4 separate regions of the Homo sapiens genome follow, and regions 2, 3 and 4 are each linked to region 1. The links come from fine-mapping of genetic effects on gene expression. A gene starts in region 1. Each other region holds a variant in brackets. All regions are shown on one strand. Distances are between the middles of the regions.

Region 1 (8,104 bases):
CCGCCCGGGGAAGCCCAGGGGAGAGCAGGCTCCACGCTTGGGTTGGTCGAGTCCTTACTGTCTCCAGAGGGTGGGTCCTGGCCACGAGCGACAGCCGAGAAGCGCAGCAGGGCCAGGGGGCTGAGCAGATCAGCCGCATCACGGAACCCCAGGGCGATAGAGGGCGCCTGTGGGGATGGCATTGGAGAGCCTGCAGGAGCGGCTGCTGGCCTGGCAACCCACGGACTGTGGCCTCAAGGGTCCCAACACCAAGAGAGCGGCCCAGCCTCCCTGGCATCTGGGGCTGGCACACAGGGGCACTTTACATCGCTATGGAATCAAGCCTCCAGCCCCTAGGCCTGTGGGTCCCAGACCACAGCCCTACCCGTTTCTCCAGGGGCAGCGTCTCTGGCAGGAAGCAGAAGATGAACAGCAGGTCGGAGGCTGCGAAGAGCAGGGCAAACCAGGGTGCCATTTCCAGGGGCAGGGAGGCTCCGAGCATAGGGCCCAGGGTGAAGCCCAGTGAGAAGGCCACCCCAATGACCGCCTAGGGAAAAGACCACCCGAGCTGCACAGGGAGACCCAGGCCCAGAAGTCACCACCAGGACCCCAAAGGCCCAGCCTGTGCACTTACCATGCCTTGACTGCGGGCCAGAGGCGAGCCCAGGTCAGCAACGATGGCCGTGGAGAGGCTGACGTTCCCTTTGCTGATGCCCCCAATCAGCCTGGAGGCCAGGAAGGCCGCAAAGCTCCGAGAGGTGGCCCAGACTGCATATGAGGTGGCCACACCCATCTGCCCAGGGGCAGGGGCCAAGAGGCAGGGGCGGTCGCTTAAGGCCAGGAGTGGCTCAGAGTAGGGCTTGGCAACCCAGACAACACCCCTCAACCCTGCCCTATTTCGAAGCATCTGAGGGCCACTTGCGTTCTCAGTGCCTTCCTAGGGGCCAGGAGCAGCTCCTTGAAAGCCTGGCTCTGGAACAGGAGCCACTGGTCCCCCGAGAACCCCCTCCAGGATGCGATGAGGGCCAACCAGTGGCCATGAGGGGCCCACAGCCACCTCCCTCTCCCCACCTAACCCCATGGGGCTACTGGCTGGGTGGGAGGAGGCTTCCCCATGGGCACCCAGGCCCAGGAACATACCAGGCACAGCAGCATCACCGGGCGCCTCCCCAAGCAGTCAGAGGTGGCCCCAGTGAGTGGCGCACACAGAAACTGCAGGACAGAGAATGCCGAGCCAATGAGACCTGAGAGACAGATGTCACCATCATGGGGCTGCCTGGCACCATGAGCTGTGGTCTTGGGGCCCTCAAGGCCAATGTCCAGCCCCGTCCTGAGGGTCCAGTCATGCTGGGCCCTACACTCACAGGCCATGGCCCTTGAGCCGAGGGGGCCCCAATGGAGAGATGAGGAAGGATCTGAACGTGACACGCGGAGGCAAGGGATCATGCCCAGAAGCCAGGACATGTGGGCAAGGGCACCAGACATGCCAGCCCAGGGAGTGGGAAGGCAAGGACCGAGAATTGGGGAGGGGCCTGGGCTGGACCACGTCCACCAAACATAGGACCGTAGAGAGCCCGCCAAGGGCACAGAGCCAGCCATACCTCCGAACAGGACACTGTTGTACCTCTTCTCCACTGGCATCCCGATGGCGGTGGCAAACCAGTCCACCCCGCCCTGCCAGGAGCCATAGAGGGGGTCCTAGGGGATGAGGAATCACGATAAGGGCTGGGGAGGTCTGATGGGCCTGGGGGGCAGGGGGCACTGTGGGCCGCAGGGCAAGGACTCACGTGGGCACGGCCGTGGCTCTCCAACAGCCCGGGCAGCAGGGGCAGCAGCAGCGTGAAGGCCAGGAGGTCCAGCAGGAGGCCGAGAAAGACAACGGTGACCACGCGGCGCTCCGGCGGCTGCTGGTGGATGGGTGGGCGCGGGGTGCAGCCTCCACCCCCTCCCCATCCCATGGTGGGCTGCTCTGACCTGGCCTGGGTGGGGTGCGGCGGGTCGGGTTAGCGGGGAAGCCGAGTCCTCCGGGGCCTGGCATACCCCCACACCCGACAGCCGGCGAGCACCCTAAAGGGGCTGATGGCAGGGGCTCTGGCCTACGGACGCAGGGGCCGTTCTGGCCTGCGCGATGCCCCCGCCCCGAACCCAGGCAGCAGGAAACGCAGGCTTCGGGGATTGCACAAAAAATAGCCGCAAAGGCAACGGTCCTGAGAGACCAGGGTGAGCACATCGCGGACCTGGCCCCACCCCACCCCACGGCCGCGCCTCCCACGCCCTCGTAACAGCGAGAGAAAACTTGAAGCCGCGGGGAACCCGGATCCCGATCCCGATCCCGATCCCGATCCCAACCCCAACCCCAGCCCCGGCCCGCGCCCCGCGATTCCGGCCCCTGGCCCGGACTCGGTCTCCCTGGCGGGGGCCATGGGGTGCACACCGGACGCAGGAGCACCCCCAACCCCGCGCGCCTCCCACTCCGCCATCCCGCGTGCGTCCCGGTCCCGCCCCCACCCCGCGCGCCCCCGGTCCCGCCCCCCACCCTGCGCGTCCCCGGTCCCGTCCCCCACCCTGCGCGCCCTCTAACCCCCACGCCGCGCGCCTCCCACCGCCCCCACCCCGCGCGCCCCTGGTCCAGCCCCACACCCCGCGCGCCCCCTACTCCCCTACCCTGCGCACCTCTCACCCGCCCCACCCCCGCGTACCCCGGGTCCCGTCTCCTCCCCCACCCCGCGCGTCCCCTGTCCCACCCCCAACCCGAGCGCCCCCTACGCCCCCCACCCCGGGCGCCCCCGGTCCCGCCCCGCACCTGCCGCGGCTGCGCGCTCGGGACGGACGGTCGCACAGACGCGGAACAGGGCACCAGGCACGCCGCCAGGGGCGGGACGGCCACGCCCGGCCACGCCACGCCCCGGAAGTGACGTACATCTCTGCACGTTCTCTTCCGGCCGGAGTCAGTGGCGGGGTTCTCGCCGGTCCTGCGGGTCGCTGCTTGGCTGTGGGTTAGCAGCACCCTGAGCGGAGCGGAAGAGCTGCCCGCCGCCGCGTAACCCCGAGGCCGAGACTCCTGGCCTGGCCTCCTTGGGCCCACGACGCCTGCCCCGCGGAGCGGACCCATGGGCCTGAGGTTTGTGTGCGGGGCCTCAGGCGAGCGCTGGCGCAGCCTGTCCCCCATCGTCTGCGCCCTGCGGGCCTGGCCCTCCCCGTGGAAGGACCGCGGGCTTCGGGGCCCCACGCTGGGGGGCTGACTCCTGCCACACACACAGCGGTGGCCGCGGGCCTGGGGCGGCAGCACAGCCATTCTGCTCGGGCTGCGTGAGCTGACCCCGCTCTCTGTGCACCTACTTTTGCTGCGTTTGGTGCTGAGCCTGAAGTCCCAGGACAGGCGGCTGAGGGGGAAAGATGGTGTGAATTGGGTGGGCAGAGACAACTGAAAGCCACAGGACCCGGTTGGCACCTTTTTGGCCGCCTGCGCCTTTGCCTGCAGCCCCGCTCCCTGGGTCACCCGAAGGAGGAGCTGGCGCTCTTTCCGGGCGCAGAAGCACCCGACCCACGCTGGAGGAAACGGTCCCTCTGGGCAGGAGAAGCTTTGGGCCTGGCTGGAGCACACTCACGGAACCACGCCAACGCCTGGCCTGTAGCCAGCTCCCACCTCCCCTCCCACCTTCTAAAATGCTTGCGGATCTCACGTGGCCGACCCTAACCAGATACACATGGGGAAAGGAATCAGGTGGCACACATACCGCCTTTACTCCATAGAGAACTTCCAATTGTGGGTAAGAACAAAGCCCCACCTCTTCCTAATAGATGCAGTTTTCCACCTGCAGCCAAAAAGACAACCTGTTATTAGCTTTTTTCCCAGAGGACAGGCATCTCTATGAAACTGCCATTGCAAAATTTGCCGACAGTGAGATAACCAGCTCCATTTTGCTTCTAACCTCCATGCCCTCCTTGTTTACTGCTGCACGCAGGTTGAACTGTGGGAGGAACTTAGTTTAAAACAAAGATGATAACAGCCCTTTCCCAAAGGAAACCTTTCCTGGGGATTAGCCTGCTTTTGTGGGACCAACAGATTAGCCACAAGATTAGAAACTACGGTTGAAGAGTCACGCAGCGGGAGGCTACAGGATTCTGACCCTCCCCAAACTGCTCCTGGCGATAACATCACCATCGTAAAGCCTAAGATCAGCACTTGGTGGGTCACCTGGCACCACCCAGGCTCATCTGATGTTGTGGCACCCAGGAACTGACTCAGTGCGAAAACAGCTTCGACTCCCTGTGATTTCATCTCTGACCTGACCAATGGGTACTTCTGACTCACTGGCTGCCCCCCACCCACCAGCTTATCTTTAAAAACTCCAAACCCCAGATGCTCAGGGAGACCGAGTAATAATAAAACTCCAGTCTCCCACACAGCTAGCTCTGCGTGAATTACCTTTTCTCTGTTGCAAATGCCCTTTCTTGATAAATTGGCTGTCTAGGTAACAGGGAAGGTGAACCCACTGGGCAGTTACACTTTTATCCACCCTTCCAGCTGGATCACGCGCCCTCTTCAATGACATGACACGCAGCTAGAGTGTATGAGCTTGCTGCCGGCACCTTCCGTCCTGGATCGCATAGCAAGGCCTCAATGGACAGCCAGGTGCCTGGTCCGGTCCCACTTTTTTTTCTGTCCTGTTCTCGTTTCCTCTTTGCTTGGCCAAAGAGGGTTGGGCCAGGGTCCTGAGTGCAAAGGCTTGGCTTGGTGAATTAAAGTGGCAGTAGCCGTGTGGCAGAGAAAATTTGTAGATGGGTGAAATCCTGGGCCTACACAGTGACAAAGTGTATATAGACAGCCAGCCTAGTTGGTGGATGTGACAACCCCAGACTCTTCTAGATTTGTGGATCCGTGCACCTGCCAGACCTGTCTCTGAGCCATCTGGGGAGGCTGGGTAAGATTTCCCCCGTCAGGGCCTGAGCCTCATCTCCAAGCTGCTGGCTTCAGCCCAGCTGCCACCAGCGCTGTCTCTGTCTTGCGCTTTCCAGAGAGAGACTGACTCATTTTGAGCTCCAGGCCTACCAGGCAGCCCAACCGCGGCAGTAACTGCCTCTCACACTGAGGATGGCTCATGCTCTGGTCCAGCCATGGCTTGAACACCTCCCAACAAGAACAAAGCCAGACTCATTCTCCCTAGCATCTTCTTCCTTGCTCAAAGATCCCACACCCCGTTAGAAGCTGGAACTGGGTCCTTGTCACCTTCCTCACCTCCCCAGTCGTAGTCTGGTTAATCCTTACATCTCACCACGGTCACCGTGGCTAGATGTGACCTCCGCGATGCTTCAGGCACGTACCAGGGCAGCCTGGGCAGGGCTGGTCACTGTGATCTCATGAGGTGTGAACTTGACCCCGGCCTTCTTTCCTGGGATGCCGGCTAAGGACACAAGTTCAGTGTTTGCCCTGGCTTGTAGCCCAGCGGGGGCTCCGTCATCCCCTGGGGAATGCCTCGGCCTGCAAGACCGCATACCGCATTGGAACAGGGAAACCACCTACTTCAGCACCTCCCTCAGCAAGGTGGCAGGTCCCAACAAGCCTTGCACCACGAGGAAGTGGCAGTGGCATTCGGGATATGGCTCCCTGGCCAGCTTGTGAAGTTCAAGGGGCTCGTTACTTCTTACAGCTCACAGTCCCTCCCGGGTCCAGCACACCTGAGGGCTGACCTCCCTCTTGATTAGTGCAGGGGAAAAGCACTTTAAAAAGCTGTGTCATGCGTAACTTGCACATCTTCTGATTCTGACCTGAAACTGCATCCCAGGTCGGCACAGACGCAACCCAGTCTCCTCCCACCTCCGAGAGTGCAGTGTCCTGAATGGAGAACCCCAGCACCCAGAAGCATCCACTGAAGGACGTAAGTAGGACAAGGCCAACTGTGGCTGTTCCAGCAGAGGGACTGTGGGTGATGTTTCCCTTCTCTGATTTCTAAAATATCTGCAAACTTGTTTCATTTATAATTGAAAATATAATTTGCATAACAACAGTAAATTCTACACATGAAGGCAAACGTCCGTGGTTGACAGAAATTACACTGGCCAGAATCCCCAGTCCCCATGAGGCTTGTCCAGACGCAGTGAACCAGTCGCAGCTGATAACACACAGACCATTCCCGATCCCAGAGGTGCATTTCAGGATTCATTCTATTTCATCAGGTGACGTTTTAACAGAAACAAAACCGCAGGCAGCGGGTGGGGGGAGCTGGAGGTTGGAATCACACCAACATTATAGCATTATTACTCTAAAAAAAATTACTTTTTTGGCTGGGTGCTGTGGCTCACACCTATAATTGGGGGGCCAAGGCAGGTGGATTACCTGAGGTCGGGAATTCGAGACCAGCCTGACCAACATGGAGAAACCCCGTCTCTACTAAAAATACAAAATTAGCTGGGCGTGGTGGCACATGTCTGTAATCCCAGCTACTCGGGAGGCTGAGGCAGGAGAATCGCTTGAACCCAGGAGGTGGAGGTTGTGCCATTGCACTCCAGCCTGGGCAACAAGAGCAAAACTCCGTCTCAAAAAAAAAAATTTTTTTTTAAGCGACACAGTCTTGCACTGTGGCCGAGGCTGGAGTGCAGTGGCTCAATCACGGCTCACTGTAACCTTGGACTCAGCTCAAGCAGTCCTCCTGCTTCAGCCTCCCGAGTAGTTGGGACTACAGGTGCGTGCCACCACACTTGGCTAATTTTTATGTTTTTTTGGTAGAGACGGGGTCTTCCTGTGTTGCCCAGGCTGGTCTCGAACTCCTGGGCTGAAGCAATCTTCCTGCCTTGGCCTCCCAGAGGGTTGGAATTGCAGATGTGAGGTAATGTCCAGTTCCTTGCCTTATTTATAAAATGTAATTTATTTTTTGAACTTTTTCCTCTTCAGAGCCTTCCATTCGCCTTCCTGTGTAGCCAGGCTGTTAAAAAGCTGCTTTACTTTCCGCTTTCTTTCCGCATCCCTAAAAGAAACAAAAGGCAAATGCCCATTTTTGGATTAGTTCTTGGAGAGCATCTTGCCCTCTCTCTCCCACATCAGAACCACATTAGCCACCGTGGCCACGTTCAGTTCAAACAGGGGGAAGTGAACCTGCCTGGCTCCAACCCCCAGCCAGAGCCAAGGCTGTGGGATGCCAGGTGCCCGGTGCTCTGCCCAGGGCCACACAGCACCAAAGCTGAGTGACACCACAATCGTGTCGCACACACACGTCCCCCTCACCGTTCCATGATTTCTGAGAGTTGCATCCTCGCCAGGAACTGATTGTCCTTGCGGATTTCTCGAACGGCCCCTTTAAATTCACGCTTGTGTTTGTGGATCAGCCTCTTCCTTTCCTGTTCCTCCTTACTACTGCCTTGTTTTCTTCCAAACTCGAGGCTACAACCAGAAAGCCACTGTTAAGGAAGCAAGAGTCTGTCCCCACCTCTCAGCCAGAGCCTGCTTGGGAGTGTGGCTTCACTCCGTAGTCATCTGCTCAACTGCAGAACTGGCAGACGCCCCCCGTCAGCTCCCACTGAGCCCACAGCCCTGGCCTCCCAGGGAGATGCTGCCAGCACCCACACTTTGACCAGCCGGGGTGTGAAAAGCTTCAGTGGGACAGGCTTGCTCTTCTCACAGGTCAGCGGCCGGCAGAGCTGCTTCTGGCTTTCCATTTCGGTCAGTGTGCTCTGACACAGCTCCTGAAAAACACGAAATCCCCGACTCTGCGATGACTCACCTGCTGCGTGCCCTGAGCTCCACGCACGGGTTCTGTGGTGTCAAGGCAGCGTGAGGACAGTGCTGCGAGCTCCCTGCAGCAGGATGGTGCCCTTGCTGTGCGCCTACCGGTGGGCGGGGGGGTAAGCCAAGGCTGTGGCTGCTCAAGTCCTGGCACAGCCGGAACGAAGTAAAGCCACTGTCTTCTTGAAGAGGGAGGGCCGTGGGCTGGCCCCTGAGAGCACTCTCTGAAAGGAGGGGACTTGGGGAGTTGGAGGTCACCATAGCCTGTGCTCCTCACAGCCAGAAACGTCAACAGAACCCCTCTTTCCCAGACAAACTTGGCACGAAAGGCCGTGAGCCACTTGCTTCGTGAGAAGGCTCACAGGAGAACCCCTTTCTGCCGCGGGGGGCCGTGTGCATGCTAGA
Region 2 (8,104 bases), 66 kb after region 1:
AATATTAGCCGGCCATGGTGGTGCACGCCTATAGTCCCAGCTACTGAGGAGGCTGAGGCAAGAGAATCACTTGAACCTGGGAGGCAGAGGTTACAGTGAGCTGAGATTGCACCACTGCACTCCAGCCTGGATGACAGAGTGAGACTCCATCTCCAAAAAAAAAAAAAAAAAGTAAAAGACTATATGCTTTCCTTTAAGATTAGGAACAAGACAAGATTGTGCACCCTCACCACTTCTGTTCAACTAGGGTCAACTGTAAGTTCCATTGTACTGGAGGTTCTAGACAGGGCAATTAGGCAAGAAAAAGAAATAAAAGGTATTCACCAGGCGCAGTGGCTCATACCTGTGATCCAGCACTTTGGGAGGCCAAAGCGCGTGGATCACCTGAGGTCAGGAGTTTGAGACCAGCCTGGGCAACATGGTGAAACCCCCGTCTGTACTAAAAATACAAAAATTAGCTGGGCATGGTGGTAGGCACCTGTAATCCCAGCTACTTGGAAGCTGAGGCAGGAGAATTGCTTGAACCCGGGAGGAGGAGGTTGCAGTGAGCCAAGGTTGTGCCATTGCACTCCAGCCTGGGCAACACAGCAAGACTCTGTTTAAAAAAAAAAAGAAAAGAAAAGGTATTTAGATTGTAAAGGAAGAAGTAAAACTCTATTTGCAAATGACATAATCTTGGATATAGAAAATTCTAAGAAATTCACACATACACACATAAAGAAAAAGACTGTTGGAGCTAATAAGTGAGTCTGGTAAGGCTGCAAGATACTAAGTCACTATACAAAATTTAATTGTATTCCTATATATTAGCAATTAAAATCCAAAAAAAAAGAAATTAAGAAAGCAATTCCCTTTGTATAGTATCAAAAAAGAATAAAATACTTAAGAATGAACGTAACAACATAAGTGTAACACTTATACTCTGAAAACTAGAAAGCACTGAAAAAAATTAAAGAAGATCTCAAGAAATGGAAAGACATCTCCTGTTCGTGGATCAGAAGACTTAATATTGTTAAGATGGCAGTACTCCCCAAATTGATCTATAGATTCAATATAATCCCTATCACAAGTCTAACTACCATTTTTTTTTTTGCAGAAATTAACAAGCAAGCTAATCTTAGAACTCATATGGATAGTCAAGGGACGTGGACTATAACATTCTTTAAAAAGAATGTAGTTGGAGGACTCGCACTCCTCAATTTCAAAACTTAGTACAAAGCTACAGTAATCAAGACAGTATGGTCCTGGCATGATGGTAGACATACAGCAGTCAATGGTATGGAATCGAGAGTGCAGAAACAAATTCATGCATTTTGTCTTAGTCCATTTAGTGCTGCTCTAACAGAATACCTGAGATTGGGTAATTTATAAAGAACAGAGATTTATTTCTTACAGTTCTGAAAGCCGGAAGTCCAAGGTCAAGGAGTCCAATCTAGTGAGAGCCCTCTTGCTGCATCATCCATGCAGAAGAATACGAGGGTATGCACACGCCTGGGTGGGGAGTGGTGGAAGGGGCTGAGCTTAGCTTTTTATCAGGAACCTGCCGCAATGCCGCAACAATAACAAAACCAGTCCTGAGATTGCAGCATGAATCCATTCCTGAGGGGCAGAGTCCTCATGATCTTATCACCTTTTTAAAGGTCCCACCTCTCAACACTGTTGCATTGGGAATTAAGCTACCAACACATGAACTTTGGGGCACACATCCAAACGATAACACATTAACAGTCAATTAATTGCCTTATCACAAGGATGCCAAGACAATTCAACTGGGAGAAAGAATAGTCTTTTCAATAGATGGTACTGGAACAACTGGATAGCCACATGCAGAGAATCACACGGAAGCCCTACCTCATTCCATAAACAAAACATTAATGCCAAATCCATCAAAGGCCTAAATATAAGAGCTAAAACTATACAACTCTTAGAGGAAAGTGTAGGTGTAACTCTTCAATACCTTGAAATTAGGCAGTGACTTCTTAGATATGACACCTAAAGCACAAGCAACAAAGAAAAAATAGATAAACTGAACTTCATCAAAATTTAAAACTTTATGCTTCAAAGAACACTATCAAGAAGTGAAAACATAACCAACAGAATGGGGAAAAGGATTTGTAAATCAAATACTGGTAAGGGTCTAGTATCCAGAATATATAAATAACTCTTACAATGCAACAATAAAAAGATGACCCAATTTTTTAAAATAGGAAAGTAAATGTAATTTTCAACACAGAAAAAGAAGCATATTTCTGCAAAATCCACCCTCCCTTCCCTCTCCACCAGTGGTCTTTCCTATTAGAATTTCCTCTGCCTAAAATTTTAAAAAGCAAGGCACTAAGTCATTTGGTAAATTTGCCCTGGTAACTACTTATTCTGAAAAACAATGATTGATCCTTAATGTAAAGCCCCAGAAGTCTCAGTTCTGCATCAGGCTGGTAGTTCTGTACCTTACCTTGCCATACTTCAGGTCACCTTAGCTTACCTCCCTCTCTCTCATGGATATTAGAAACACTGCTTTTCCTTTGTGTGAGAATAAATAACTATTAATATAAAAATTTTCTATGATATAGAAAATGGGAACACTATTTGGTGTTAATCATTAAACGGTCTTGATAGAATCAACCTGCTATTTAGTTTCAGAAAAATTGAGACTTTGGAGGGGAAATGACTGTTAAAATATTGTCTTTGTCTTCTGAGAATATTTTGTCTTGTTTTCTGCTGTGTCCAGTGCCTGGAACAATGCATATTTGTGGAGCAAATGAGTGAATGAACAAACTTCTTTTCTTTCTTTTTTCTTTTCTTTTCTTTTCTTTTCTTTTCTTTTTTTTTTTGAAACAGTCTTGCTCTGTCACCAGGCTGGAGTGCAGTGGCACAATCTCGGCTCACTGCAACCTTTGCCTCCTGGGTTCAAATGATACTTCTACCTCAGTCTCCCGAGTAGCTGGGACTACAGGCACGTGCCATTATGCCCAGCTAATTTTTTTTTTGTATTTTTAGTAGAGATGGGGTTTCACCATGTTGGCCAGGATGGTCTCGATCTCTTGACCTCGTGATCTGCCCACCTCAGCCTCCCAAAGTGCTGGGATTACAGGCGTGAGCCACGGCGCCTGGCCCAAACTTCTTTTCTTAAATAGGAAAATGAATGGACCGATCTTATTCTTATGACAGCCTTGCTGCATAGAAAGAAAGGACTGGAGAGTCCAGCAGGGTGTGTGTGTTTCAGTCTTGGCTCTCCCCTTGGTGATGCAGGTGCACTGGAGAGGGACTTCCCAAGTCTCTCCTCATCCATCAGGGTGGTGGTTGTAGGGCTAAATGAGACTATATATATATATATATGTGTGTGTGTGTGTGTATATATATGTATATATGTGTATGTGTATATATATAGGTATATATGTGTATGTGTATATATATGTATATATGTGTATGTGTATATATATGTATATATGTGTATGTGTATATATATGTATATATGTGTATGTGTATATATATACATATATGTATATATATGTGTGTATGTATGTATGTATACACATACATATATATGTATATATGTGTGTGTGAGTACATATACACACACACACACACACACACACACACATATATATATATATATTTTTTTTTTTTTTGAGATGGAGTTTCGCTCTTGTAGCCCAGGCTGGAGTGGAGTGGCGTGATCTTGGCTCACTGCAACCTCTGCCTCCTGGGTTCAAGTGATTCCCCTGCCTCAGCCTCCTGAGTAGCTGAGATTACAGGTGCCTGCCACCATGCCCAGCTAAATTTTTGTATTTTTAGTAGAGACAGGTTTCACCATGTTTGTCAGGCTGGTCTCGAACTCCTGACCTCAGGTGATCCACCCTCCTTCGCCTCCCAAAGTAGTGGGATTACAGGCGTGAGCCACCACGCCCGCCCGAGACCATAGTTATTGAAATGCCTCAAATGTATTAGATAATTTAAATGGCAGCTACTAATCATGATTAATTGTGATAATATTGTTGATTTTTTAAAATGTGAGTTTTCTTATTGTTTACTATCTTTCAACTTATGTTAGGAAATAACTGATTTATAAACACAGATTTCCTCTGGTCGCTTGGCCCTATCACAGTCAGAAATCAGTCTGGAATGCATTTCTTGTTTCTAATTACAAATTAGGTGGACAATTGAGCATGACTTGGGTATTTTTTCATTGAATCTGGACAGTGGTTTTGTCATGTGTTTCCTTTTTCCAGAATTCTCTGGATGAGGGTTAAGGAGAGCAGGGCCTGGGCACCTGGAACACTGTGAGTGGGAATACAGAGTGGCAGAGCCTCTTTGGAGGGCAGTTTCACAATAAATATGAAGTTTAAAATGCTTGCATCTTTTTGAGCTGGTAACTCTGTGTTTAGGAATCTATCCTATAGAAATACACATGTATAGAGACGTTCACGGTGGTGCTGTTTGCGTGGGAAAACTGGCAACTAGGATGTAACTGGGGGCAGATAAACTCATACACCGGGAGACCGTGCAGTCACTCAAGAAAGTGGGGTAGCTCTATAGACGTCAGCACATACTTTAAACACTGGACCCAGGCTGGGCACAGTGGCACATGCCTGTAATCCTAGCACTTTTGTAGGCCAAGGTGGGCAGATCAGTTGAGCTCAGGAGTTCAAGACCAGCCTGGGCAACGTGGTGAAACACTGTCTCTACAAACAATACAAAGATCAGCTAGGTGCAGCTGGGCACAGTGGCTAACACCTGGAATCCCAGCATTTTGGAAGGCTGAAGACTTCCAAAGGATCTCTTGAGGTCAGGAGTTCGAAATTAGCCAGGCGTGGTGGCGGGCACCTGTAATCCCAGCTGCTTGGGCGGCTGAGGCAGGAGAATCGCTTGAACCTGGGCGGCGGGACTTGCAGTGACCCAAGATCATGCACTGCACTCCAGCCTGGACCACAGAACAAGACTCCATCTCAAAAAAACTAGCCAGGTGTGGTGGCATGCGCCCATAGTCCCTGCTACTTGGGAGGTGGAG[G/T]TAGGAGGATTGCATGAGCCCAGGAGGTGGAGGCTGCAATGAGCCGAGATTTTCTGTCTCCAAAAAAACCACAAAACTGAACATATATTTTTCCCATTTGCATGAGGAAAAAGAAACTATCTGAAGAGGTGTGTGTGTTTGATTTTTAATTTTAATTGTGATAAAAAAACACGTAACATGAAGGTTACCAACGTCAGCATTTGTAAGTGTGCACTTCAGTAGTGTTAAATATATTCACCCTGTTCTGCAGCCCATCTCCAGAACCGACCTTTTCATCTCACAGAACTGAAATTCTGCGTCCATTCAACAATTCCCAGTTCTCTCCAAGCGCCTGGCAACCACCATTCTACTTTATGTCTCTATGAATTTGACTACTCTAGGGACCATATATAAGTGGAATCATACAGGATTTGTCACTTTGTGACTGGCTTCTTTATTTATTTTTGAGATGGAGTTTCGCTCTGTCGTCCAGGCTGGAGGGCAGTGGCACAATCTCAGCTCACTGCAACCTCCGCCTCTCAGCTTCAAGCAATTCTCGTGCCTCAGCCTCCTGAGTAGCTAGGATTACAGGTGCCTGCCACCACGCCTGGCTAATTTTTGTATTTTTTAGTAAAGACAGGGTTTCACCATGTTGGCCAGGCTGGTCTTGAACTCCTGACCTCAACTGATCCACATAACTCTGCCTCCCAAAGTGCTGGGATTACAGGGGTGAGTCACCATGCCGGCCGTGACTGGCTTATTTCATTTAACATAATGTCCAAAAGGTTTATCCAAGTTGTAGCGTATTTCAGAATTTCCTTTTTTTAAAAGGCTGAATAATATTCCACTGTGTATATATACTGCATTTTATTTATCCATTCATCCACAGACACCTGGGTTGTTTTTTGCTATGGTGAATTATGCTGCAATGAACATGGGTGTGCAGATACCTGTTTGAGACCCTGCTTTCCATTCTGTGTGTGTGTTTTTTTGTTTGGTTTGGTTTGGTTTGGAGACGGAGTTTCACTCTTGTTGCCCAGGCTGGAGTGCAGTGGCGTGATCTCAGCTCACTGCAACCTCCGCCTCCCAGGTTCAAGTGATTCTCCTGCCTCAGCCTCCCAAGTAGCTACCTACCACGCCTGGCTAATAGTTTTGTATTTTTAGTAGAGACGGAGTTTCACCATGTTGGCTGGTCTCAAACTCCTGACTTCAGGTGATCCACCCACCTCGGCCTCCCAAAGTGCTGGGATTACAGGCGTGTGCCGTTGCATCTGGCCCTGTGTGTGTTTTGATATGCATCGGAGAAGATCTGAAAAGGCAGACAACAGCAGAACTCTGGAGAGTGGGACGGGGTGGAGGGTCCAGGTGGCACTTTGACTTTCATTTTATACACTTTGTGTTTCATTTTTTTACAATAAGCATTAGGTTCTGTTCACTAGTAAGTTATGAAATCACTAATGGTTATGTATTTGGTTTGTACTGTATTAAGTTGGCAGCCCCTTTACCAGAAATACCTCCAGATGTTGTGACAGAATGTAGATTGGGACTGAAGGAGGAGAACCCTTCCAAAAAAGCCTTTGAGGAATGTACTAGGTAAGTGGTTCATGCTGAGCCCTGCATATATTATCTATGACTAACCCCAAAACAGACAGCTTTCAGGAGGTTTCTCTGCATAAGACAAGTTCCTAGAGTGTAGTTGACCCTTGAACAACATGGGCATTAGGGACGCTGACACCACCCAACCTTCTGCGCAGTTGAAAATCTGTGTGTAACTTTTGACTCCCCCAAAAGCTTAACTACCATTAGCCTACTGTTGACCAGAAGCCTTACTGATAACATAAACAGCAGATGAACACATATTTTGTATATGTATTATATGCTATACTCTTACAATAAAGTATGCTAGAAAAAATAAAGTGTTACTAAGAAAATCATAAGGAAGAGAAAATATAATTCCTATTCATAAAGTGGAAATGGATCATCATAAAGGTCTTCATCCTCGTCATCTGCACGTTGAGGAGGCTGAGGAGAAGGAGGAAGAGGAGGAGCTGGTCTTGCTGTCTCAGGGGTGGCAGAGGCGGAAGAAAATACATACATAAGTGGCTCCTGGCGTCTCAACCCGCATTGTTCAAGGGTCAACTGTACTTTACACATTAAAATGATTACTTCCTCTAGAAAGAGGTGAATGAAGAGTAATAATTCCATGTACACACGAGGCACACTGAAGGGGGTCCCATCGTTTAGCACCAGTATCCTAGCATCCCTGTGGTGACTCCAGGCCCTCTCTGCTCTGCTTGTGTCTAGGACAAAAAGATTTTTTTCAGACCTAGGTACTCACCAAAAACATCTTTTTTCAGGGCATTTCCAAGGAGAATTCCGAGGTAAAGCACTTTGGCTAAATTCAGTTTCTTTACATATGCGGGATGAAAGAACAGTTTCTGAGGTGATCAGGCCCAAAATCTGCAGTGCCTTGTGTATGCATGCAGACAGTCACTCATGTCACAGCGGAGGAAACGGAGGCCCAGGGAGCCATGAGAAAGTTTATTCTTTGCTCTGAGAGCAAGCAGATGACATATGCATTGTGTTTAAAAAGATCGCTCTGGGTGCAACTTAGAGGTTAAAGAGAGGGAAGATGGGGTCCAGGAGATGAGCCGGCGAGGCCGTTGCAGCTCACATGTGGCAGGGAGTGGCGCACCTGAGCCAGTGCAGTCCGAGCATAGTGGGGCTGGGGCTGGACCCTGATGCTTTAATGATGCGGCTGCCTCTAAAATAACACACAGGCCGGGCGCGGTGGCTCACGCCGGTAATCCCAGCACTTTGGGAGGCCGAGGCGGGCAGATCGCTTGAGGCCAGGAGTTCAAGACCAGCCTGGCCCACATAGAGAAACCCCATCTCTCCAAAAAAATGCAAAAATTAGCCAGGCCTGGGGGTGTGCGCCTGTAATCCCAGCTACTCAGGAGGCTGAGGCATGAGAATCACTTGAACCTGGGAGGTGGAGGCTGCAATGAGCCTCCCCTGTACTCCACTGTACTCCAGCCTGGGCAACACAGCGAGACTCTGTCTCATAAATAAATAAATAAATAAAAATAAAAAACAAGGCTTTCTCTCTCTATCTGG
Region 3 (8,104 bases), 77 kb before region 1:
TGGGGACCGTTACTCAGCTTACTAAAAGAGTGTCTCTTATAAGTTACCTGTAATTTCTGTCTTTTAACTGGCATAATTTAGTACATTTATGTTATGATTCAGATAAATTTGTACTTTCTTTATCATCTTAGGTTTTGTATTCTGTTTGTCTTTTCTCCCCATGCTTGCCTTTTTAAACAACTGGGAGTTGTTTGTTTTTCTTTATATTCTTCCATCTTTTGGTTTGGAAATGACATACTCTTAATATTCTTTTAGTGATTACCCTTGAAATTTTGCTATGCATATTTAACGAAGTCTAAAACTAATATTCTGTCGCCCTCCTAGATACAGCAAAGGCATGAAAGTTCTTTAATTCCAATTATTCAACTCTCAAGTTACATGCTGCTGTTGTTCAGTGTTTTAGTCCAGACTTTTTTTTTTTCTTTTTAAAGAGACACAGTCTTGCTCTGACACTCAGACTGGAGTGCACAAGTTTTTTTCTTTTCTTTTTTTTGAGACAGGTTCTCACTCTGTTGCCCAGGCTGGAGTGCAGTGGCGCGATCACAGCTCACTGCAGCCTTGACCTCCTGAGCTTTAGTGATCCTCCCACTTCAGCCCCCAAGTAGCTGGGACTACAGGCACATGCCGCCATGACCAGCTATTTTTTGTATTTTTTTGTTGAAACAGGGTTTTGCCATGTTGTGTAGGCTAGTCTCAAACTCTGGGACTCGAGATCTGCCTGCCTCAGTCTCCCAGAGTGCTAGGATTACAGGCGTGCACCACCATTGGGCATGGTGGTGCATGCCTGTAGTCCCAGCTACTCGGAAATTATTTCACACAAGTTCTTTTTTAAAAAAAAAAAAAAAAATAGAGACGAGTCTTACTATTATGTTGCCCAGGCTGGTCTTGAATTCCTGGGCTCAAGTATCCTCCCACCTCAGCCTTCCAAAGTGCTAGGATTACAGGCATGAGCCACCACTCCCAACCTTCACCTAAGTTCTTGAAAGATAATTTTGCTTGATATAGAAATCCAGATTGACAGTTATTTCTTTTCAGCATTTTGGAGTTATCCTACTGCTCTCTACTTTTGTTGTTTCTGTTGGCAAGTTTGGCAGTAGTCGGTTTGTTATTCCCTTGTAGGTGATCTGTCTTTTTTTCTTCTGGCTTCTGTTAGAATTTTCTTTTCTTTATTTTGGCCTTGGCTATTCTGCATATTCATTACAATGTGTGTAAGGTATGGATTTATCTTTATTTATTTTGCTTGGTTTTTGTAGATTCATGTCTTTCAGCTCTGGGAAGTTGTCAGCCATTTTCTTTTGGAATATTTACTGTTCCCTATTTATTATTTCTGCATGTTACTCAAGTAAATGGTTACTAGAGTTTTTTTTTTTTTTTTTTTTTTCCTGAGACGGGGTCTTGCTCCGTTGCTCAGGCTGGAGTGCTGTGGCATGAACTCTGCTCACTGCAACCTCCACCTCCTGGGTTCAAGTGATTCTCTCGTCTCAGCCTCCAAGTAGCTGGGACTACAGGCGTGCACCACCATATCTGGCTAATTTTTGTATTTTTAATAGAGATGGGGTTTCACCACGTTGGCCAGGCTGGTCTCAAACTCCTGACCTCAGGTGATCTGCCCACCTTGGCCTCCCGAAGTGCTGGAATTACAGGTGTGAGCCACCACACCCAGCCAACGTTCTTATTCTGTTATTTTTTATTTTTTATTTTTTTTGAGATGGAGTCTTGCTTTGTCGCCCAGGCTGGAGTGCAGTGGCGGCATCTCAGCTCACTGCAACCTCCACCTCCTGGGTTCAAGCAATTCTTCTGCCTCAGCCTCCTGAGTAGCTGGGACTACAGGCTCATGCCACCACGCCTGGCTAATTTTTTGTATTTTTAGTAGAGACAGGGTTTCACCATGTTAGCCAGGCTGGTCTTGAACTCCTGACCTCATGATCTGCCTGTCTCAGCCTCCCAAAGTGCTAAGATTACAGACGTGAGCCACCACACCCGGCCAGGGCAATTTTTTCAAAGCTGTGTTTTAATTCGCAAATTCCTCTTTGTATCTAAGCTGTTACTCATTTTTTGACCTAAAAATTCAATTTAAATTTCTTTTATTCTAAAAGTTAGCAGGTGTGGTGGTGCTCCTGCAGTCTCAGAGTCCCAGCTACTCAAGAGGCTGAAGTTAGAGGATCGCTTGAGCCCAGGAGTTTGAGACCAGTGTGGGTAAATCGAAACCCTGTCTCTACATAAAATACAAAAATTAGCCGGACATGATGGGGTGCACTTGTGGTCTGAGCTACTCAGGAGGCTGAGGTGGGAGGATCACTTGAGCTCAGGAGGTGGAGGTTGCAGTGAGCTGAGATTGTGCCACTGCACTCCAGCCTGGGTGACAGAATGAGACCCTGTCTCAAAAAGAAAATCTGAGTGGTAGGGATTTTCAAGTATTTGCCTTAGTTGAGGTCTCCAAATGGAAATAGTGATTGGGCACTAGTTTAAAATGTACAAAAGGTGTATTCAGTGTGAGGTTGGTTCCAAAGTGCACGGTTTGACAGCCCAGGGAGTGAGTGAGGTGTGTTGGTGTGTTTTCCATGATACAGGGGAACTGACTCCAGTATGGCCAGTATACGAGACTTTGGTAAAATCATTACTTTGTTCTGGAACTCTATTTTAGCATCTGTAAAATGACTTCTAAAGTTCCTTCTGGGGCAGAAAATACATGCTTCTAAGGTTCTGTCTCATTGCTTTTTTTTTATTTTAGTAATTTAATAAGCATTTATTTAAGATCTGCTGCATTCAGAGCATTGTGTTAGGAATATTGGAAGTAAAGCATTGTAATAGCTCTTGCCTTCAGTAAGCTTGCAGTCTGGCAGTTGGATTAAAAAAATGACCATACGAAGCCGTGATAACAGCCTCTAGGAGGGAACTCTACTATGTGGTGGAGATATGTGTCCCCCTGCAAATACCAAGAAAGACAGTTAATTAGTGTCCATTACAGAATGTTCTTCTGGTGTCCTTTTTAAAGAGATTCAGTCAGTCTTTAAAGATGATGCTATTGCTGCTACTGCTAATAATAATAGTGATAGCTACCACTTACTGTTTACTATGTACCTTGTGCTAAACACTTGACATAAGTTAACTCGTTTAATCTTAAACCA[A/G]GGAAGTAGATAATGATTCTCATTTTACAGATGAAGAAACTGAAATAGACAGAGATGAAGAAATGTGCCTAAGGTTACGCGGTTTAGTGAACTGGGATCAGAACCTGGGTTCTCTGGCCTTAGACTATAAACCATAGATAGGAATTGAGCACATTTATTAATCAGCATTGCAAGGCTGGTGGAATTTTGATAAACACCCAAACCAGATTCTTTTCTGCACTAGTGATACCAGACAGATTTTGGAAATATAAACAGGATAGGGTGCATTAAAGTTCACTCACATTTGTTCAGTTAAACAGATGGTTGGCTTATCTTTAGTTGCTTCACTCAGTCATTTCCAAAACCACACCCAAGGCCAGGCAGTGGCTCATGCCTGTATTTCTAGCAGTTTGGGAAGCTGAGGTCAGAGGATCACTTGAAACCAGGAGTTTGAGACCAGCCTTGGCCACGTAGTGAGACCATGGCTCAACAAACAAAGAATAATAAACATATTTACTATTATGGGACGTCTATGTGCCAGACATTGTGCTAGACATTTTACATTTATTATTTCTAATTGCCCCAACAACCTGGGAACATATCACCGAGTGTATTTTATTACAAATGTGGAAACTGAAGTACAGAAGACAATAAGCCTATGAAGTGATCGTAGGGCGTTGCTGGTACAAAGTCAAAACCTGCATCATTGGGCCCTGCGCCTCTATGTCTGTGGGGAGAAGGGATTGTTGATGATGTGATAGCTGGAAAACATACCATTCATCAAAATAAATCCCAGGTGGATTAAAAAGAAATGTTTAAAATTATAGAGGCACTGTGGAGAAAAAGCAAAATAAAATGTTTATCAGAGATAACGCCTTAACATTTTCTTGGAACATTTTATTAGATGTGTGCCTGGGAAGGAATGATAACTTTCTTTTTAAAACCAGAAGAAATCACAAAGGAAAAGGTTTGTCAACCTAAATATGCAAAATGTTAAAATATTTTCTTATTGAAAAATAAAATTATAGAAGATAGTAGTCTGAGAATGACAAATATGATAAAAGGGTCAATACCTGTACTATTTTTTTCAGATGTGTAGAAATAAATACATCAAGATCTCAACAGATATGTGTACAAAGGAAATCATAGGCCATGGGAAATTTTAAATGTAAATAAGCATATAAAAAAATTCATGCTCACATACTGAGAGAGATGCCAAATAAAGTAGACATTTCTACACTCCAGCCTTGGCAACCGTGAGACCCTGTCTCAAAAAAGCAAAACCAAAGCAGACATTTCCCATCTACCAAAACAGAGAAATTTTAGTGATAGCCTCTGCTTCCTTTTCGGAGTATGTAAGCCAAAAGGAAATGAAACTTTTTATTTAATCCTCACCCATTTTGGAGGTTTTCTTTACTGTAAGGTTTCCTTTCCAGTGTCAGGCTTAACCTTCAAGCAGTTACCACTTTAGACACATTGTTTGCTGCCATTTCATTCAGCAGCTGCGTTATTCATAAGATCACTTTATAATGACATACTTTTCCATCTTACTGTTTTATAATTATTAAATGGTTCCCCTGATATTGCTCCATTTTTTTTTTTTTTCAGGAGAAACATTCTCAGGTTAGTACTGTTAATCCCTCCTTACGTGTTTAATTAGATTATAGAGTGTTGGTTTTTTCCTTCCTTATAAAATCTTACGTAGAGTTTTCTATACTGATGTGTCTGGTCAACCTGTGCTTCCTGACTTAGCTGAGTCTTCCTGCAGTCTTTATGGGGTTTCATAAAGTGAGCAGGTACCATGCTCACTTAGTTATAACTTCCCTGAGGTCTAGAAATCTCCTTTTCTTCTTTTCTTATTGTCCTACCTCTGGGAGTTGTTTGTGTGAGCTTTAGTCTCCAAATCGAGTCATCTAGAGGCAGACATACTAGCTACGTTTGCTTTATCAACTTTGGGAATTGACGTGATTTTGGAAACATAAGACCTTCTTAATTCAGAGATACAAAACCCAATTTGATATGCAGATTGTCCATTTGCAGTCTGGAATTTCCTTGTGAGTGGCGAACTTGTGAGTGAAATTTGGAGTGTTTTAGTTTGTTGCTGTACTCCAAGGGTCTCTTCAGTCGGACGTCAGTTGTGATTGAATGAAGCAAAGCAAAGGTTTTTCTTAGTCATATGCCTCTAGAAACAAAACTTAGATTAGCGTTGTTAGTCCAAAATGTTAGATCTGGAAATGTATTTGTTCTTCCATATGTATTAATTGAGAGACTATTACGTGACAGCTCTGTGAATACAGTAGTGAATGAGACAGACCAGTTTCTTGTCCTCTTGGGAGTTTTATTATACTAGGGGAGATAGTTTATTTCTGACAGTAATACTAAGAGTTAACACTTAAGTACTTCCTATTTGTCAGGCACTTATTCTAAGCATTTTACATGCATTAACCTGTTGTTAAACTCATATTTCAAATGTGGAAACTTCCACCAGGGAAGTTAAGAAATCTTGCCAAAATTACAGAGTCAGTAAGTGGCTGAGCTGGAGTTTGAACTCAAGCAGTCTAGCTCCAGAGTCTGTGCCCTGATAGTGATGGTAAGTACTTTGAAGGGTAAGAAAACACAAAAAGTCCAGGGTGATTTGAGAGAGCTGGGAGTGGGGACTATTCTAAATAGGGTGGGCAGGGAAGCAAACTTCAAAATTTCCAGTTGAAATTTGACCTGCAGCCTAACTGATAAGGACTAAGGCATTCAAAGTAGCTGGAATAAATTCTTTGTTCTAGGCAGAGAGGACAGCAAGTACAAAGACTCTGAGGCAGGAAGGGGCTGGGAGTGTTTGAGGACAGAAGGGAGACTAGTGTGTCTGGGAAATGGTGAGCAAGGGAGCGTGGGGGCTGGGGGCCAAAATGGGAAGGCCCCTGCATATTGGGGTCAAGAGTGCAGATTTTATTCTAGGGACTGTGGGAAGCCATTGAACTCTTGGCCCCAAGTGGTCCTTGGCCTCCCAAAGTGCTGGGATTACAGGCATGAGCTACCACTCCCAAATTAAGTAGGGTGCGACATTTAAATATATTAATACCTTTATGGAGAATGAATTATTAAGAGTTTATGAGTTTAGATACAGAGAGACAAGACTAGAGATTAAGAGTCTTATTTTGAATAAGTTAGGTTTGAGTAGACTTTAAATATTCAAACAGATGTTTTGTTGGCATTTGGACATACAAGTTTGGCCTCAGGGAAGAGTTTAGGGCTAGAGATAAAAATTTGGGGCCCATTAGTGTATATAAATCAGTGGTTCTCAACTGTGAGTGCACATTTGACTCACCTTTAAAAATGCTCATGCCCAAGCTCCATTCCTAGAGATTCAGATTCTGTGGGTCTGGGTTTGGGTCTAGCCATGGTTTGTTTTAAATCTATCTAGGTGGCTCTAATGTATGACGAGGGCTGAGAACCACTGGTGGAGGTGGTATTTAGAGCCAAGGATGGGCCTGGATCAGTGTGATCCTTTAAGGCAAACTTGTCCAACCTGTTGCCCACATGTGGCCCAGGACAGCTTTGAATGCAGCCTAACACAAATTCGTAAACTTTCTTAAAACATTATGAGATTTAAGTTCATCAACTATCATTAGTGTTAGTGTATTTTATGTGTGGCCCGAGACAATTCTTCTTCCAGTGTGGCCCAGGGAAGCCAAAAGATTGGACACCCCTGGCTTAAGGCAATGGTATAGCTAGGGAAGACAAGCAGCTCAGGGTACTGGGGCAGCCCAGCAGGTAGAAGTTGGATAGAAGAGGTAGAACAGCAAGGGAGACTCACAGCAGTAGCTGGAGAGGTTGGAGGAAAACCAGAAACTGATGTCTGAAAACTGGAAGAGGACAGTGACTCCTGAAAGTGGGAGCAGCTGTGCCAGATGCTGCTGAGAGCTGGTAAAGTGAATGCGCTCAGAAGGAATTGAAACTAGCTTCACTGAATGGGTCTCAGAGGTTCAAACCAGGGTTTTAGGAGCTGTAGATTCAAATCCTACCCCTGACATTAGTTTTCTATTTAAAATTAAACAGGATGCTCTTTTCTTAGCCTCTTTTTATCTTTGCTTATTAACCAAAATGTAACTGAACTGTCTCAATGCTTAAAGAAAGGAGATGATAAACAGACAGCCTTATTCCCCTCTCCCATTCCCAAACAAAAGCCAGTTCTTACCTGGAGTTTTGGCTCTAGCTTTCTCTCTGCCTGGAGTGCCTTTCTGGATATATGGCCACCTGGCCTAGTGCTCTCACCACCTGTTTGTCTGTGAGTCCTTCCTTAGCTGTCCCCTTCTCTGGGAGCTTTCCTTTGCTCTTCCTACTTAATGATGTGACTCACCTCCCCACCCCCTGGACTCCCAGTTCCCTACCCATAGCACTTGTCGCCTTCTAACAGACTGTGTGATTTACTTATTTATCATGTTTATTGCCTGGCTTCCCTGCAGGAATGTAAGAAATCTTTGTTTTGTTCATTGATGTCCCCTGAGAATGTGGATTGCTGAGCAATGCCTGGTCTATAGCAGCCTCACAGTTAGTGCTTGGTAGATATTTGGTGACTGAGTGCTGACTCCATGAAAATGATTGTCATCCTTTGACTCTGCTCCAGTTGCATTTGAAAAGTTGCATGGGATCTGCCACTTCTCTCCATGACCCAACTATAGAGACTTCTGGAGTGTGGCTTCTCCCCTCTACCTCAGTACTGTCATGCCTATTGAATTTTTTTGAGACAGAGCTTCACTCTGTCACCCAGGCTAGAGTGCAGTGGGATGGTCATGGCCCACTACAGCCTCTACTAGGCTCAAGTGATCCTCTCACCTCAGACTCCTAAGTAGCTGGGACTACAGGTGCATGCCACCACGCCCAGCTAATTTTTAATTTTTTTTTTTTTTTTTTTTGGTAGAGCTAGGGTTCTGCCATATTGCCCAGGCTAGTCTCAAACTCTGGGCTGAAGCAATCTGCCCACCTCTGCCTCCCAAGGTGCTGGG
Region 4 (8,104 bases), 51 kb before region 1:
ATTCCAGGCATGAGCCACTGTGCCCAGCCAATGTATTTACTTTTAATCTTTTTCTATGTTTAGGTATGTATTTGCTGTAATAAGGACTGGTTATACTGCTTGATAACATTGTCACTCAAACATATATCAAGAGCAATTTTATGCCATTTAAGTTTTTTTAGCTTTTCATGTTGAATGCATGCGTAGAATTCCCAGTGTATTTGATCAGTCCTCTGTTGATTGAAACGTAGGATGTTTTTCCCTTTTATCAATAATACTGGAATGAACATACAAATGAATCAGTCTTTGAGCACTTCCTTGAATGTTTCCTTAAAATAGATTCCTAAGAGTAGAATTCCTGTTCAGAGTTTTAAGCTTTTATTGTATTAAATTACTTTCTAGAAAAGAATGTACCAGTTTATATTCTCAGCAGTAATGTGTGAGAATATCCGTTTGCCTTTCCAGCACTGGATGAAAACAAAAATTGGTCTATGTGATAGCTACTTCTGACCCCCTGCCCAAGGAACAGAAAATAAATGGTATCTCAGTGTTTTAATATTTTTTATTAGGCTTTCTGTGAAGAATTGGAATCAATGATACAGGAGCAATTTAAGAAGGGGAAGAACCCCACAGGCCTATTGGCATTACAGCAGATTGCAGATTTTATGACCACGAATGTACCAAATGTCTACCCAGCAGCTCCGCAAGGAGGGATGGCTGCCTTAAACATGAGTGAGTAGTTCCTGATTTTTAATATATGTTCTGTAGTTTTCAGGTAAAATTTCCTGAAGATTGCTCATGTGAAATAAGTGGGCATTTAACTGTATAACATAACAGAGTTGAGTATTTTGAAAATTAATGTGTTTTCGTTAGTCATAGTAAAAGATAGGCTGGAATTCTGAAATCATCTTGAATGTTGCAGACTCCTCTTTTCTTAGCCAGTGAGACTTTATTTCCGAGGCAGATGACTTTTTATGTGTCTTCCCAGCCCCTATGTAGATTAAAATAAACTAATAGAAATAATGCTGTGGAGTAGCACATCAGTTTTGCCTGGCCAGCATTTCTTACCTAGCATTCTTCACTGCTGTGTCCCAACTAGTGAGAAAGAGAAATTCTAAAAGAAAAGCCAGAGGAAAAGTACTGGATGGGTGAATGTGAGCAAAGAATGGTCAGCTGTGCAAGAATGCAGCTTTGCCATGGCAATTGAGTTTGCAAATGTTAACATGACAAAGCATCAACTAATCTGAGCCACTGCATATTGTACCTTGGATTAGTCTCTGATGGGTCTGGTTGGATAGTCAAATCTGATTGCCCGAAATAAGGTACTGGTTTCTGTTAGATCTGCTGACATTTGCTATTTACCTGTCTGCTCTGTGGTATTCTTAGAAGTTGAATAGCATTCAACAGATCTGATATATATTGTAATTAATGTCTACAGAATATTAAGAGTCACATTTAATCCATAGCTCAAACCTCCATCCTGAAATCACATGGCCACCACTAGGAAAGTTTTCATGTGGATTCCGTTTTTTTTTGTTGTTGTTGTTTTTGAGACGGCGTCTTGCTCTGTCTCCCAGGCTGGAGTGCAGTGGCATGATCTCAGCTCCCTGCAAACTACCACCTCCCAGGTTCAAGCTGTTCTCCTGCCTCAGCCTCCTGAATAGCTGAGATTACAGGCACACACCACCACACCTGGCTAATTTTTGTTATTTTTAGTAGAGACGGATTTCGCCATGTTGGCCATGCTGGTCTCAAACTCCTGACCACAAGTGATCCACTCGCCTCAGCCTCCCTAAGTGCTGGGATTACGAACATGAGCCACCACACCTGGCCCATTTCGTCTGTATTAATTAGCAAGAATGTTCTGTCAGGAGAAACTTCCCTTCAGTTCTTTTGGTTACCTGGTGATACAGTTTGTGTAGGAAAGGCAGGATCCCTTTCCGAAATAATAAGTTGGTTTCCAATCATCCTTCAGTGATGAACAATTAGTTTTTTTTTTTTTTAGTATTATTTGAATTTATGATTTAAACATAGTCAGTGTGTTTCACATCATTGCAGTTATTATCCGGATTTGTTGAGAACTTTCCTTCTGAATGGATGTTGAACTTTGTGAAATGCTTCTTTTCTTTCTGTTAAAATGATCCCTTAGTCTTTCTTCTTTAGTTTGTTATGGTGAATTATGTTTTTTTGTTTGTTTGTTTGTTTTGTGTATTTATTTATTTAGAGATAAGTTCTTGCTCTTTCACCCATGCTGGAGTACAGTGGCACGATCACAGCTCACTACAACCTTGAACTCCTAGGCTTAAGGGATCCTCCATGCCTTCCATGCCTGGCTAATTTTTCTCTTTTCTTTTTTTTTTTGAGATGGAGTCTTGCTCTGTCGCCTGGGCTGCAGTGCAGTGGCGTGATCTTGGCTCACTGTAAGCTCCGCCTCCTGGGTTCACGCCATTCTCCTGCCTCAGCCTCCCAAGTAGCTGGGAGTATAGGCGCCCACCACCACGTCTGGCTAATTTTTTGTATTTTTGGTATAGACAGGGTTTCACCTTGTTAGCCAGGATGGTCTCGATCTCCTGACCTTGTGATCCTCCCGCCTCGGCCTCCCAAAGTGCTGGGATTACAGGCGTGAGCCACCGCGCCCAGCCCATATTGGTTGTTTCTATCTCCTTTCTTTTGTTAAGTCTGGCTAGAGGTTTATCTTATTTTATTATTTGTATTTTATTTTTAAACTTCTCAGAGATTCAACTTTTGCTTTAATCAGAAAGCCTTAAAAACACTTTTCTTCTCTAATGTATACGTTTAATGCTGTAAATTTCCTTTTAAGCTTGCTTTACTGCACGCCACAAATTTGGCTATCTTTTTGTTATTGATTTCTAACTTAATTGTGTAAGTATTGGAAAACAGTCATTATGAAATTGTCTTTGAAGTTTTCAAGACTTTATTGTCTAATGTGGAAGATAAATATCTCAGAACCATTAGTATTTGATTTACATTTGATAAGAAATGTTAATATTTGAGGCTTTTTGGTAAGTCTCGCTTTGTTGCCTTGGCTATTCACAGCTGCTATCATAAGCACTACAGCCTCAAACTCATGGCTTCAAGTGATCCTCCTGCCTTAGCCTTCTGAGTAACTAGGACTACAGGCGTATACCACTGCACCTGGCTGAGTTTTGTTTTTCTTTATTTCAGGTCTTGGTATGGTGACTCCTGTGAACGATCTTAGAGGATCTGATTCTATTGCGTATGACAAAGGAGAGAAGTTATTACGGTGTAAATTGGCAGCGTTTTATAGACTAGCAGATCTCTTTGGGTGGTCTCAGCTTATCTACAATCATATCACAGTGAGTATTAAATGGGCTAGTAACTGAACGATAAATGAAATATTTTGTGTCTGGCACCACCTCTTTCCATTTAGGAGAAGAGGGAAGCAGGCTGAGCTTCAGTAAGTCTTGGAATACCTCTTCTGATTCCTGACTACAGAGTGTAATAACCTGAGAATCAGCCAGTTTGGGTTAAAAGTTACAGGAACAGCAGTTCTTGAAAATTTCTTTCTTGCGTGCTAACCTAATAAAACAACTAAGTGTTTACCAGATTATATGCAGTTTCTAAAATTATTTTTATGCTTAAAAACCTAAGAATGATGATGTTTTCTTTCTTAGTCTGACCAAAGCCTTCCGTCTCTCAAACTTATTTCTTCAGCTACTCTAGTTTTAACTATTTTTCAACATTATTAGGATCTCTTTTCCTTCATTCTGGGTATCTGCTTTCTCTGGACCAAGCGCTGTTCTAACTGTGGTTGTGTCAGTGGACAACATGAGTCCTTCCCTTGTGGACAGTCACTTCTTCATCCCAATCCATTAGCCTATTCTTCACTCCCTATTTTGTCCATCTTGTATTTCATAGTCCCTCATTTCAGCAATACTCTGCCAATCCTGTACTCTCCCTCCCAGCTTCTGAGTAGCGAAATCCTGCTGTGGAAGTCCTCCCACCAGAGCCCATTACCTTTCTCCATAGATTCAGAACCCAAATCTCAAATGGGCCAATGACTTAGCCTGGCAACCATAACTCATCTCTCTTACAACCTTACTAATATTTAAGCCTTCTCTACTATCTTTGAGACTCCTGACCTCCTTCTTCCACCAAATGACCTCATCATGTCACAGAAAAAATGGGTACCCTTACTGACATTTGTAGCCATTCTGTACTCTTGACCACCTGTTATAATGTCTTGCCTTCTGCCTGTGGCCAGACTTTGCTCACCTGGCTTGGAATTCCACCCTTCCTGCCTTCTTTTTTTTTTTTGAGACAGAGACTTGCTCTGTTGCCCAGGCTGGAGTGCAGTGGTGCAATCTCGGCTCACTGCAAGCTCCGCCTCCCGGGTTCACGCCATTCTCCTGCCTCAGCCTCCCGAGTAGCTGGGACTACAGGCGCCCGCCACCACGCCTGGCTAATTTTTTTGTATTTTTAGTAGAGACGGGGTTTCACCGTGTTAGCCAGGATGGTCTC[G/C]ATCTCCTGACCTTGTGATCCGCCCGCCTTGGCCTCCCAAAGTGCTGGGATTACAGGCGTGAGCCACCCTGCCCGGCCCCTTCCTGCCTTGTTAGATTCACAGTGCATTGCCAGGGTTCTTCTGTTCCTTCACTCTTTTGTAGAGATAGCTTCTTCCTTTGAACTGCTTCCTTCCTTTGGTTTTGAAACTTGTTCCAGTCTTCTGTTTTTTTCATGTAATTTCTTTTAAAGGATATTTTAAATTGTTAATACAGTGCCTGCTTTTTGTATCAAGTGTACCTTATGCAGATGTCTAAAGAAAAAGTAATTCCACCAATACTTCCATCTCTCTTGAGGCAAGCAGTGTGTGCGCTGTTCACGTTGCTGAAATGTTTCCTCCATACTCACACACACATGGGTTTTTCTGCACATGGACTCATAACCAGCGGTGCTTCGTTAAGCTCCATTCTGGACTCAGAGGAATGCTAAGCCTCTTGAGGTGACGGTCTGGAGCTCACCTTGTGATTAGTGTGTTGTGCCTCTGGGACTTGATATTGGTCTCTGCCAGAGAGACTGAGTTGCCTTCTATCCATCTGTTCTTGTTTCCGCTTAAATGAACTTTTCAAAATGTAAGCCTTACCATGTCATGCTCCTGTGTGCGGCACGGTCACTCTGTGTAGAATGTCATCGCTGCTTTATTCCCCTGTAGCAGTTACCCCCATTCATTCTGTATGTTTAGCTGTTGCTGTCCCTCTCTGCCCACAGGAATATAAATTCCACAGGGAGAGCGTCTGTTGTGGTCCCTGCTGTGGCCCCAGGACCCGTGGCAAAGAGTAGGCATGCAGTAAACTTAGGTGAAAAACTGAATGAAACCCCCGGCTGAACTGAAATTACCTCAGTGAAATTGTGAACAAGAGCTCGCTGGGACCTTTTGACATTTGATTGGTGGGTCCAGTTAGCCTAGCACAAATGCCAGCTCCCTTCCTGGTGCCTGCAGGGAAATTGCTGGCCTCTGTCATCTAATTATACTTGACAGAATGCTGTGGTGGAGATTAGTGCTAAGTGGTTGCCTGAAGATCAGTGCGGTGAAAATGTTACAGCTGTGATTGGAAACGTAACCCTAACTGTGATAACAGCTTCACCTTCTTCGCAGGTTTTAAAGTGCTGTTTGCCTAGTCCTATTTTGAATGCTGATTAAATAAGTTTGAATTGGTTAAATTGCTTGTTTTCTCCTCCTTTAATTGTTTAAGAATTGGCAAAATTAAAAAAGTGTTTTCTGTAAATTATCTCCTTGGGGCTTAATACCGAGTAAAAAGAAATGCAAGTTACCTAAAATGTTTCCTATGTCTTATAAACTAGAACTAGAGAATCTTTAAGGAAGAAAGGTTTTGGTTTATTTTGTTTTACTATTATGGCATCCATTTCTTATTTACTATCTAGGTATGGTATAGACGCTTAACAGAAAAGCAAATACAGTGTCAACAAAAAGTGACAGCAGGTCATTCTGCCCTTTCTTTGAAAGGGGGTCATAGGGATTTTCTGCTAAAGGGATTTAAAATTGCTAACAGGTGTTAGAAGATTGGAGATGATTGTCTGAAATAGATCTTTAAGATTGCATTGGATTTGGAGAAGTGTTTGTGGGGGCTGGGGGGAGGGGGACAAGACGGGGTGGCCCAGTTAGCACAGTGGACTGGGCTTCCTCTCTCGGTGGCACTTAGCTGATGGCTTGGCCTGCCCATTCTGATGTCAGTGGAATGCTGTCAAGGCTTTGCACCTGCAGAACCTGGCAGGTGCTTGTTCAACTCCATTCTGGATTCCAGAGAATGCTAAGCCTCTGAGGTGATGGTCTGGACCCACCTTTGTGACCAGTGCCCTGTGCTTCAGGGACGTGATAGTGGTCTCCTCTGGAGGTACTGAATTGGGTACTGCATTGGTCTGCAACAGGAGAGTCTCATTCTTCATACACAGAGAAGGGGCAGTACATGTGTGGGAAGAGACACAGGGAGAGCAGGGCTGGTCTGACGGGGAGGGACAACTGCAGAGGAAACTGACTTCAAAATATCCTTCTCTATTTTTACTTGATGTTTGTAATTTTGCACTTTCTCCTTTTTGCTTTAGATTCAGAGAATTGAATGTTTTAAGCCTCTAAAATTAAAGTATGTATTAATAGATCTGTTAGTTAAGCTTACAGTTGGAAATAAATCTTAAAATAAGTAAAAGAAGGAAACATTATTAATTACAGCGTTATTATTATTATTATTATTTTTGAGACAGGGTCTCACTCTGTTACCCAGGCTGGAGTGCAGTGGTGGAATCTCGGCTCACTGCAACCTCTGCCGCCTCGGTTCAAGTGATCCTCCTGCCTCAGCCTCCCAAGTAGCAGGAACAGGCATGTGCCACCATGCGCAGGTGTGCACCACCATGCCACTAGCTGATTTTAGTATTTTTAGTAGAGATGGGGTTTCACCATGCTGGCCAGCCTGGGCTCAAACTCCTGGCCTCAAGCGATCCGCCTGCCTCGGCCTCCCAAAGTGCTGGGATTACAGGTGTGAGCCACTGTGCCCGGCCCAGCATTATTTGTAATAATGAAATTATTATTATTATTATTATTATTATTATTATTTTAGGCAGAGTCTCACTCTGTGGCCCAGGCTGGAGTGCAGTGGCATGATCTCGGCTCACTCAACCTCTACCTTCCGAGTTCAGGCAATTCTGCTGCCTCAGCCTCCCAAGTAGCAGGGATTACAGGCACCTGCCACCACACACAGCTAATTTTTTTGTATTTTTACTAGAGATGGGGTTTCACCATGTTGGCCAGGCTGGTTTTGAACTCCTGACCTCAAGTGATCCGCCCACCTCAGCCTCCCAAAGTGCTAGGGTTATAGGTGTGAGCCACTGCACCCAGCCAATAATGAAAAATTTTAAGAGTCCTTAAGTATTCAGCAGTAGATAGGAAATGGCTCAGTTATTCAATATCAATTTGAGCAAATGTTGTATACTATGAAAAACAATTACAAAGATCATGTAGAACAAGTGAAATATGAAAAATGAAAGGTATCAGAAATGAGAAAATATGAAATATATACTGTTTACAGCTATATGAAATATGTACATATATATATGGAGAGAGAGAGAGAGACAAAAGAGAAATGACTAACAAAAATGGTTGTGTAATACTTTTTAAATGTGGAACCTGACAGCATGCTTCTAAAATTTAGATGGAAGAGCGGAAGGCCAAGAATAGCTAAGACACTCCTGAAGAACAGCTAGGCAAGGAGATTTTTCCTACCAGATGTCAAACTTAATATAAAGTGGTAATTAATATAGTGTCCTTTGGGCAAAGGAAGATGCAGAGGGATCAGTAGGGCCAAATTGCATGCATTGAAACAGACATGCTGTAGTCGGCATTGCAGCTCAGCGGGGTGGGGGATGGACTTGGCAATGATGGCTGCTGGGATGCTTGGGTAGAAAAGTCACAAGTGGAAATAATTATATGAGACTTCTATACTATACATAATCACAAAGCAATCCCAGTGAATTAAAGATTAAATGTGAAATGCAATACTTTAACAATTTTAGGACTAATATAGGTGAAAATCACTGGCCTTGAACCTCTGGCCTAAGGAGAGATGTCTTATGACAC

Evidence for each region. PIP is the estimated chance that this variant, and not a neighbour inherited with it, causes the effect.
Region 2: its variant is fine-mapped to the expression of NOP14-AS1 in whole blood (TOPMed, PIP above 0.99).
Region 3: its variant is fine-mapped to the expression of NOP14-AS1 in whole blood (TOPMed, PIP 0.93).
Region 4: its variant is fine-mapped to the expression of NOP14-AS1 in lung (TOPMed, PIP above 0.99). The same link has a PIP of 0.9 or more in testis.

Annotation. Positions count from the first base shown.
Region 1 is chr4:2,931,987-2,940,090 of GRCh38, forward strand. NOP14-AS1 (NOP14 antisense RNA 1) reads left to right here and starts at 3,560. Exons shown (of 4, transcript NR_015453.2): 1 at 3,560-6,156; 2 at 6,707-6,806. It overlaps SLC75A1 (solute carrier family 75 member 1), which reads right to left and starts at 2,839. Exons shown (of 13, transcript NM_001146069.2): 1 at 2,783-2,839; 2 at 1,767-1,958; 3 at 1,581-1,677; 4 at 1,120-1,223; 5 at 614-772; 6 at 365-526; 7 at 59-167. The coding sequence starts at 1,937. NOP14 (NOP14 nucleolar protein) reads right to left here. Exons shown (of 18, transcript NM_001291978.2): 16 at 7,541-7,659; 17 at 7,202-7,357; 18 at 5,950-6,944. The coding sequence ends at 6,845. RefSeq lists enhancers at 310-359, 1,080-1,309, 1,330-1,459, 1,552-2,419, 3,677-4,876 and 2 more and silencers at 2,260-2,479, 2,709-3,018, 3,179-3,288.
Region 2 is chr4:2,997,755-3,005,858 of GRCh38, forward strand. GRK4 (G protein-coupled receptor kinase 4) reads left to right here. Exons shown (of 16, transcript NM_182982.3): 5 at 6,477-6,580. Among named protein-coding and RNA genes, the nearest start is that of GRK4, 38 kb to the left of the region's middle. The variant G/T (reference allele first, on the strand shown) is at 5,009.
Region 3 is chr4:2,855,226-2,863,329 of GRCh38, forward strand. All of the region lies in intron 1 of ADD1 (adducin 1), which reads left to right. Among named protein-coding and RNA genes, the nearest start is that of ADD1, 15 kb to the left of the region's middle. RefSeq lists a silencer at 4,513-4,582 and enhancers at 6,764-6,843, 6,925-7,637, 7,638-8,104. The variant A/G (reference allele first, on the strand shown) is at 3,129.
Region 4 is chr4:2,881,350-2,889,453 of GRCh38, forward strand. ADD1 (adducin 1) reads left to right here. Exons shown (of 16, transcript NM_001354761.2): 3 at 549-711; 4 at 3,166-3,317. Among named protein-coding and RNA genes, the nearest start is that of ADD1, 42 kb to the left of the region's middle. The variant G/C (reference allele first, on the strand shown) is at 4,483.